Homo sapiens: one gene and its partner. The protein of the gene in region 1 purifies or fractionates together with the protein of each later gene. This does not show direct contact. Each region holds a gene or a part of one and is shown on either strand. Other genes may lie near its edges. The genes, in order: TFEB and PPP3CB.

What was found.
Region 2: the proteins of TFEB (region 1) and PPP3CB purify together in Homo sapiens (co-immunoprecipitation; one study listed by IntAct). This does not show direct contact.

What each region holds. Positions count from the first base shown.
Region 1 is NC_000006.12:41,686,936-41,690,749, reverse strand, and holds part of TFEB (transcription factor EB), read left to right. Parts: coding exon 1-87; intron 88-938; coding exon 939-1,019; intron 1,020-2,721; coding exon 2,722-2,842; intron 2,843-2,940; coding exon 2,941-2,997; intron 2,998-3,580; coding exon 3,581-3,656; intron 3,657-3,814. UniProt on the Homo sapiens protein: Transcription factor that acts as a master regulator of lysosomal biogenesis, autophagy, lysosomal exocytosis, lipid catabolism, energy metabolism and immune response.
Region 2 is NC_000010.11:73,471,766-73,475,579, reverse strand, and holds part of PPP3CB (serine/threonine-protein phosphatase 2B catalytic subunit beta isoform), read left to right. Parts: intron 1-549; coding exon 550-661; intron 662-3,814. UniProt on the Homo sapiens protein: Calcium-dependent, calmodulin-stimulated protein phosphatase which plays an essential role in the transduction of intracellular Ca(2+)-mediated signals.

The DNA of each region.
Region 1 (3,814 bases):
GGACACGTGCTGTCCTCCTCCGCTGGCAACAGTGCTCCCAATAGCCCCATGGCCATGCTGCACATTGGCTCCAACCCTGAGAGGGAGGTGAGTGAGGAGCTGGCCAGTGGCCATGCTGCTTGCAGAGCTCGTGCCCACTGCTGTGCTTCTGAGACTCCCAGTCTAATGGCAGAGGCAGGGGTGCCTTCAGGGAGACTCAGTCTGAGGTGGGGACAGAGCCCTTCTCAGGGAGCCCCAATCTCAGGGGGGAAGACACAGCCCTGCCCTCAGGGAGCCTCACAGAGGAAACGCCATCCTTACTTTCAAAAGCTCTGCTAGGAAGTCAGGTGCCGTGGCTCACGCCTGTAATCCCAGCACTTTGGAAGGCTGAGGCAGCCAGATCACTTGAGGTCAGGAGTTTGAGAACAGCCTGGCCAACATAGTGAAACCCTATCTCTACTAAAATACAAAAATTAGCTGGGCGTGGTGGTGCACGCCTGTAATCCCAGCTACTTGGGAGGCTGAGGCAGGAGAATCACTTGAATCGGGAAGGCGGAAGTTGCAGTGAGCTGAGATCGAGCCACTGCACTTCAGCCTGGGCGACAGAGTGAGACTCCTTCTCGAAAAAAAAAAAAGAAAAAAGAAAAAAGAAAGCTCTGCTAGGGAGAAACAGAAGACTTATCCAGGAAAGCCCAGCACACTCCCCAAGCCAGAGACAGAAGTGAGATCAAGGAAGCTCCCTGGGCAGGTAGGCTCCTTGGCAAGAACCGTAGCTTCATGTTGGGCCAGTGGGACCTGGACAGCTCATCTCTTCTCTGGGCCTATTTCCTCTTTCCCCAGATAAGTAGGTTGGGTGAGGTGGGCTCCAAGGTCCCTCCAGGTCAGTGGTTGTCCCAATGCCTCTTTCCCCTGCCCACCTCGTGGTGGGCCCTCCCCAGATGGACTTTTCTCTTTTCCAGTTGGATGATGTCATTGACAACATTATGCGTCTGGACGATGTCCTTGGCTACATCAATCCTGAAATGCAGATGCCCAACACGGTACTCCTGGCTAGGGTGGGGTGGGTGTGCAAGGGTTCTAGGGAGGGGGGCACCCACTGTGGCTCTGAGCCTGGAGAGAGTGGAGACAGGGTTCTCACTGGGCAGAGCTGGCATGTTTCTGTAGAGATGAGTCATTTTCATTAAATAATGTGACAAAGGCCGGGGCCAAGAGGAATTATGAAGCAAGAAGGATGTGCCTCAGCCTCTGTGCACCATGGGGCTTCAGAGGGGAGAAGGGGCTGGGGACACGGAGTGGGCCTGTGGGGGGAGCTTTCCAGGTTGGCGAAGGGGCAGAGGGAGGCAGGGAGAGCACTGCATGGGTGGAGGGGCAGTGTGTCTATGGGAAGGTGTGGAACTAATGAGCTCCTTTGGGGACCTGGGCCTCCCCTCCTTTACCAAACCCAGGGCCCAACAGGCAAAAGCCTGTCTGTGTCTCTTACTCCATGGGGCAAGTGATCTGGGGCTGGCCTTGTCCCCAACCACAGGAACACTCCCTCTGGCAGCTTCCTGCGTCTCCTGGCAGAGGTGGGGTAGCAGGTGGGGAGGTGCTGGGCTTGGAGTCAAGAAGCCTGGCTTCTGGCTTTTGCTGTGACCTTAGGAAATCCCTCAAGCATACTAAACCCCAGTTTTCTCAGCTGCAAAATGGGGGTGATGCTCTCTACCCACAGGATTGTGGGAAGATTAGATGAGGGAAGAAATTGAGGGCAAGCTCTCTACAAAGGTGGCAGGTGTGTACGCTGGGCAGGTGGGATTGCCAGCGCCCCTTCCACCCACTTTTCTTTGGAGCTCCTGAACCTCAGCTACTTACTCCTGCCTTTGGGCATGAGCCTTTCACCCTGATCCTGGCCCCAGCCCATGCCACCAAGGGAAAGTCCCCAGTTCCTGTGGTGGGGAGTCAATCCTCTGTCCCCACTGCCCTGGTGACATCGCTGAGTGGCTTAGTAGGAGCTGGCCGGGACTGGTTGGGTCCAAACCTACAGCTAGCAGGGGCAGCGAGGGCTGAGGAGGGAGGGAGGATGCAAGTGATTGGTCCCTTTAGTAGTTCCTGTGTACACTGTGGGGTGTCTGGGCCTGTGATTTGTTCTGCATGTTTCTGTGGCAGATCTTTCCAGAGCTCAGATCTCTCCCTGTCAGACTCCTGCTTCAACTTCCCTTGGCTGCCCATTCCAAAATTCCAGTATCTTTGCAAGTCAAACACTGTACTGGGGATCCAGATACATCTGCCCTGCCTACAGCACCTCCACCCCCACCACTTCTGCCCTTGAGCTGCTGGAATTGTGCTCTGCCAAGCTGCCCTGTCTGCTTGTGCCCTGGTGGCTGCCCGGAGTGCCTTGCCTCACATCTCTGCTCAAGACTCAGAGTTCCACACCCTCCAGGAAACCGTCCAGAAACTCTAGAATTGATTAGATGACCTGCTCTAGGGCTTCCATAATGCCTGGGGCCTAATCCTATCACATATTATTGGTTGGATCACTCTCTCAGACACTCTAGGCCAGGGGCTCCTTGAGGGCAGGGACTACATCTTATAATAGCTCTGGACTCTGCAGACCTTCAGGTTGAATTGCTGGGTGAAAGGGCCCAAGGTGAATTTTGACACTCCAGGTGTCCCCAGGAAGGACTGCTCCTGGGATGATAGGCCCTAGAGGGGGCTCCCCGTGGAGAGGGGGATACTCATGGGTCTCCCTCACCCCCTACCCCACAGCTACCCCTGTCCAGCAGCCACCTGAATGTGTACAGCAGCGACCCCCAGGTCACAGCCTCCCTGGTGGGCGTCACCAGCAGCTCCTGCCCTGCGGACCTGACCCAGAAGCGAGAGCTCACAGGTACTGCCTCCCTCTACCCCTGTGCCTTTGAATACCCGACTCCTCCCTCCTTTTCTCCCTCCCTCCCAGCTCCTCTCTCCTTCTCTTTTGGCCTCCAGATGCTGAGAGCAGGGCCCTGGCCAAGGAGCGGCAGAAGAAAGACAATCACAACTTAAGTGAGTCCTGCCCCGCCCCTCTCCCTGCCTCCCTCTTCCTTGTTCTCACCTGGGCTGGCTAAAAAGCCACTCCCTGACCTGCACTGGTGGAAGGCTTCCCTGCTCAAGGCCAATTCACTTGCAGATGGCTTAAGCCCTCCCATTGCTGTCGCTCAGTGGTGCCTGGGACTATTAGTGCTGTCTTTCCACTAGGCCTCTTTAGGAGTGGGTAGGAAGGATTCCTGTAAGGGATATTCATGAAACCCCCAGTTTATCAGGTTGTTTTCTGGGTTAAGGCATGGAACCTGGGGCATCAGAGTTCTGTGTAGCAGGGAAGAGTCCTACCCCAGGCAGCTTTGCTGTGCTACGAGCATCACCATGGCTGATTCTACCTTTCAGTGCTCTTAATTGTGTCTGGCCTTTGCCCTGGACCCCCTAATTCCTGTAGAAATCCCAATCTGTTGGTCACCTCTTACTTCCTGGAAGAACTAAATCTAAGCTGCAGGCTGCCCTGAAGCACCCCTCCCTGGGCTGGGTACTTCTCCCCATGGGGTGGGGGGTCCCCATCCCTCTAATTGCTCCTTCTGGAATCTGTTACCTTTAGTTGAAAGGAGACGAAGGTTCAACATCAATGACCGCATCAAGGAGTTGGGAATGCTGATCCCCAAGGCCAATGACCTGTGAGCAGGTTTCTGAGGGGGAGGGTGATGGGTCTGGGTGGGCAGCAGCTGACAAGTATTATCTGCCCTCAGCCCCATGCTAGTTACTAGGATGGGAGGAGAATTCCTTCTAGAAGTTCATCTATTTGAGAAAAGATCTCTCCCTCTCCCAAATCAGG
Region 2 (3,814 bases), on another chromosome or scaffold:
TGCTTAAGATCAGAGGATCAGAATCCTATCTCCATCACTTAGAAGTTTTGTGGTTTTGGACAAGTTACTTGAGATCTTTGCTTCAGTTTCTCATTTGTAAAATAAAGATGATATTACATACTTCATAGTGTTGTTTGAGGAATAAATTAGGGGAATTATATAGTGCTTCACATATTGTAAGTACTTAATAAATGTTAGCTGCTGTTATTTTGACAGTATTATTTACTAATACGCATCTGTAGACCAGTGTGCTAATTGTTTTTATATTGGGCAGTCTGTAAATCCAAAGTAATTAAATAGATTGTTTGACTCATTCATTCAACAAATATTTATTGCTCTTCTCCTATTTGCTAGGTACTCTTCTGGGAGTGGAGAATCAAAAGTGAATAAGATGACAAAATCTGTGATTTTGTGGTGCTTATATTTTAGTAAGGGACAAAGAAAGATAATAGAGGATGGTAAGGGTAGTAGAGGAAAAGGAGCAAAGATCAAGCAGCTTCATTAAACAAAAGTACAAGATAAATTCACTAGAAAAATTTTCTTTTGCAGTGTGTCTTATATTTATGGGTTCTGAAGATTCTATACCCAAGCACATTATTTCTTCTGAGAGGCAACCATGAATGCAGACACCTTACTGAATATTTTACCTTTAAGCAGGAATGTGAGTACTGCCAGAAGAAATGTTTTCACTTCCTCAGTATTCTTTTGGACTTAAGTGGGTAGTAAGAGTTTTGAAGACTTTACAGTGCAACATGTAAGGACAGATTTCATGTCCACACATAAAGCTTTGAGGAAAGTTGTCGAGCACTCTCTGGTGTTTAATGGTATTAAGAAGTTTTTGGTGGGGCATGGTGGTTCACGCCTGTAATCCCAGCACTTTGGGAGGCCCAGGCAGGGGGATTGCCTGAGCTCAGGAGTTGGAGACCAGCCTGGCCAACATGGTGAAACCCCATCTCCACCAAAAATACAAAAAAAAAAAATTAGCTGGGTGTGGCGGCACACTCTTGTAGTCCCAGCTGCTCAGGAGGCTGAGGTGGGAGGATCGCTTGAGCCTGGGAATCGGAGGTCATAGTGAGCTGAGATCATGCCACTGCACGGACAATTGCCTGGGCAATAGAGTCAGACCCTGTCTCAAAAAAAAAAATTTTTTTTCATTTCAGAATTTCTTATTATGTTTAACTTTTACAAACATACTTAGAGTTTTATATATAAGTTTTAATGTTACAATTAATTTTTCTAAGCCAGGCACGGTAGCTCACGCTTGTAATCCCAGCACTTTGGGAGGCCGAGGCGGGTGGATCACCTGAGGTCAGGAGTTCAAGACCAGCCTGGCCAACACGGCAAAACCCCATCTCCTAAAAATACAAAAATTAGCCAGGCGTGGTGACATGTGCCTGTAATCCCAGGTACTCAGGAGGCTGAGGCAGGAGAATCACTTGAACCTGGGAGGCGGAGGTTGCAGTGAGCCGAGATCGCGCCATTGTACTCCAGCCTGGGCAACAAGAGCGAAACTCTGTCTCAGGAAAAAAAAATGTATATATTTTTTCTAACAGGAAAAAATAAAAACCAAAAGAAAAAAATGTTATTTTGCATTGGAGATTTTTGTCCTTCAATCTTGAGGCATTCCTGTGAGGAATCCTAACAAATTGTTTATCCTGTTACCATTGCAGATCATTTCAATCATGCTATTAATGATTGAAATTCTTCTTAAAATTTTTTTGTTTTTTTAAATATCATTGTTTTAAGACTAGTCAGGTACAGTTGGTGAAATTCTTAACCTGCAATGTTTATCCCTTTTCTCTCTCAAATTATTATAGCAATGGTAATCTAATACCTGTAAGTAACCATATGTTACAGAACAAGATTAGGCCTTTTTCACACCTCAAACCTTTGTGCTTTTTTATTATTTTTGTTATTTTTATTTTTTTTTTGAGACAGTCTCGCTCTGTCGCCCTGGCTGGAGTGCAGTGGTACAATCTCGGCTCACAGCAACCTCCTCCCGGGTTCAAGTATTCTCCTGCCTTAGCCTCCCAAGTAGCTGAAATTACAGGCATGCGCCACCACGTCCTGCTAATTTTTGTATTTTTGGTAGAGGCGGTGTTTCACCATGTTGGCCAGGCTGGTCTCTTAACTCCTGACCTCAAGTAATCCACCTGCCTCGTCCTCCCAAAGTGCTGGGATTACAGGTGTGAACCACCGCATCTGGCCTGCCTTTGTGCTTTTTAAGTTAATATTTATGACTGTATTAAGTAGAGTTAAATTCTAAAAGCAGAAATAATTTCAACGTTTTGAGACTCAAAACATGATCCAATAAAGGTCATACTAAGTAGAGACTTGCAGCAACAGGAGAAAAATACAGTGATGGGTAGTGGCAGAAGTGGCATACTCTTATAACTTCAAGGATCAGGCAGTTAACCTAAATGAGTAAGATAAGACCTGGAAAGTGCATGCTTGACCTAAAAGCAGTCAAATTAGAATTTTTATTAAACCACAGTGCTAGAAAACAGAGTCGTTAGCAGACTGCCAGTGTAGAATCTCTGGTTGCTGGATATATATATAGTTTTTTTAATATTTGAATATTACAGTATTAAAACAGGAAATAGGAACTAAGTTCTTTTTCTTTGCCTAGATAAATAACAAACCACCTACCAAAATCTCATCAAAACCAAAATAGGAATTTAAAGTTGTAAAGGAGCAAATGAAAGTGCATGATATCTCTCTAAAAGTAAATGATAGTTTGATTTGGTAGAGTTTTGTCTTTCTTGTGTTTCTATATTGGCTTCCTGCTTCACTGCCCATTTTAAAGTATTCATTGTAGGCAAGAGGAACCCCTCAGCTTTTCTGACATGAGCATGCTATTATCTTTTATTTTTCAGAAAAAATGGATGAACCTTGAATTTTGTTGTGATGATGTAGTCATCTTGCCTGTAATAAGAATAAAGTAGTCATTGACTCTTAGAATAAAATAAAGCAAGTATTAAAATGATTTTAACCTCAAGTACAGTTCTAATTTTGCCTTATTTGGCCGATAAAGGTGAAGGGTTGAGCTGTTTTTAAGAGATTTCTTTCTTTTTTTTTTTTTTTTGAGACAGAGTCTTGCTCTGTCGCCCAGGCTGGAGTGCAAGTGGCACGATCTCGGCCCACTGCAGCCTCCACCTCCTGGGTTCAAGTGATTCTTGTTCCTCACCCATTGAGTCTCTGGGATTACAGGTGCACACCAGCATGCCTGGCTAATTTTTGTATTTTTAGTAGAGACAGTGTTCTGCCATGTTGGCCAGACTGGTCTCAAACTCCTGGCCTCAAGCGATCTGCCTGCTTTGGCCTGTCAAAGTGCTGGGATTACAGGCGTGAGCCACCGTGCCTGGCCTGTTTTTAGAGATTTGACTGACTTATTTTTAACAATACGTGATGACTTTTCTGTCATCCAAAATAATTTTAGAGAGCAAATATTTTGCTTCATAAGACATAACATCATCGAGAATAATTTTAGAGAGAGCAAATATTTTGTCTTCATAAGACAGATAACTTTGCATATTTTTGTTGATTCTTATAGGGGAAGATGCTTTCCTTAAAAAAATTGTGTGCAGTAAGATTTATTCTCTGTGGTATTTACTTCTGTGACTTTTGACACTGCATAGAGTTGCCCACTACCACTATCATGATACAGAAAAGTTTTATCATGCCATAAGTTCTCTCTTGCTACCTTTTTATAGTCACCCCTTCACTCACTCTGAAGCCCTGGCCACCACTTTGCTGTTTACTGTCTATAATTTTCTTGCCATCTGTCTGTCTGTCTGTCTGGGCTATTACTACA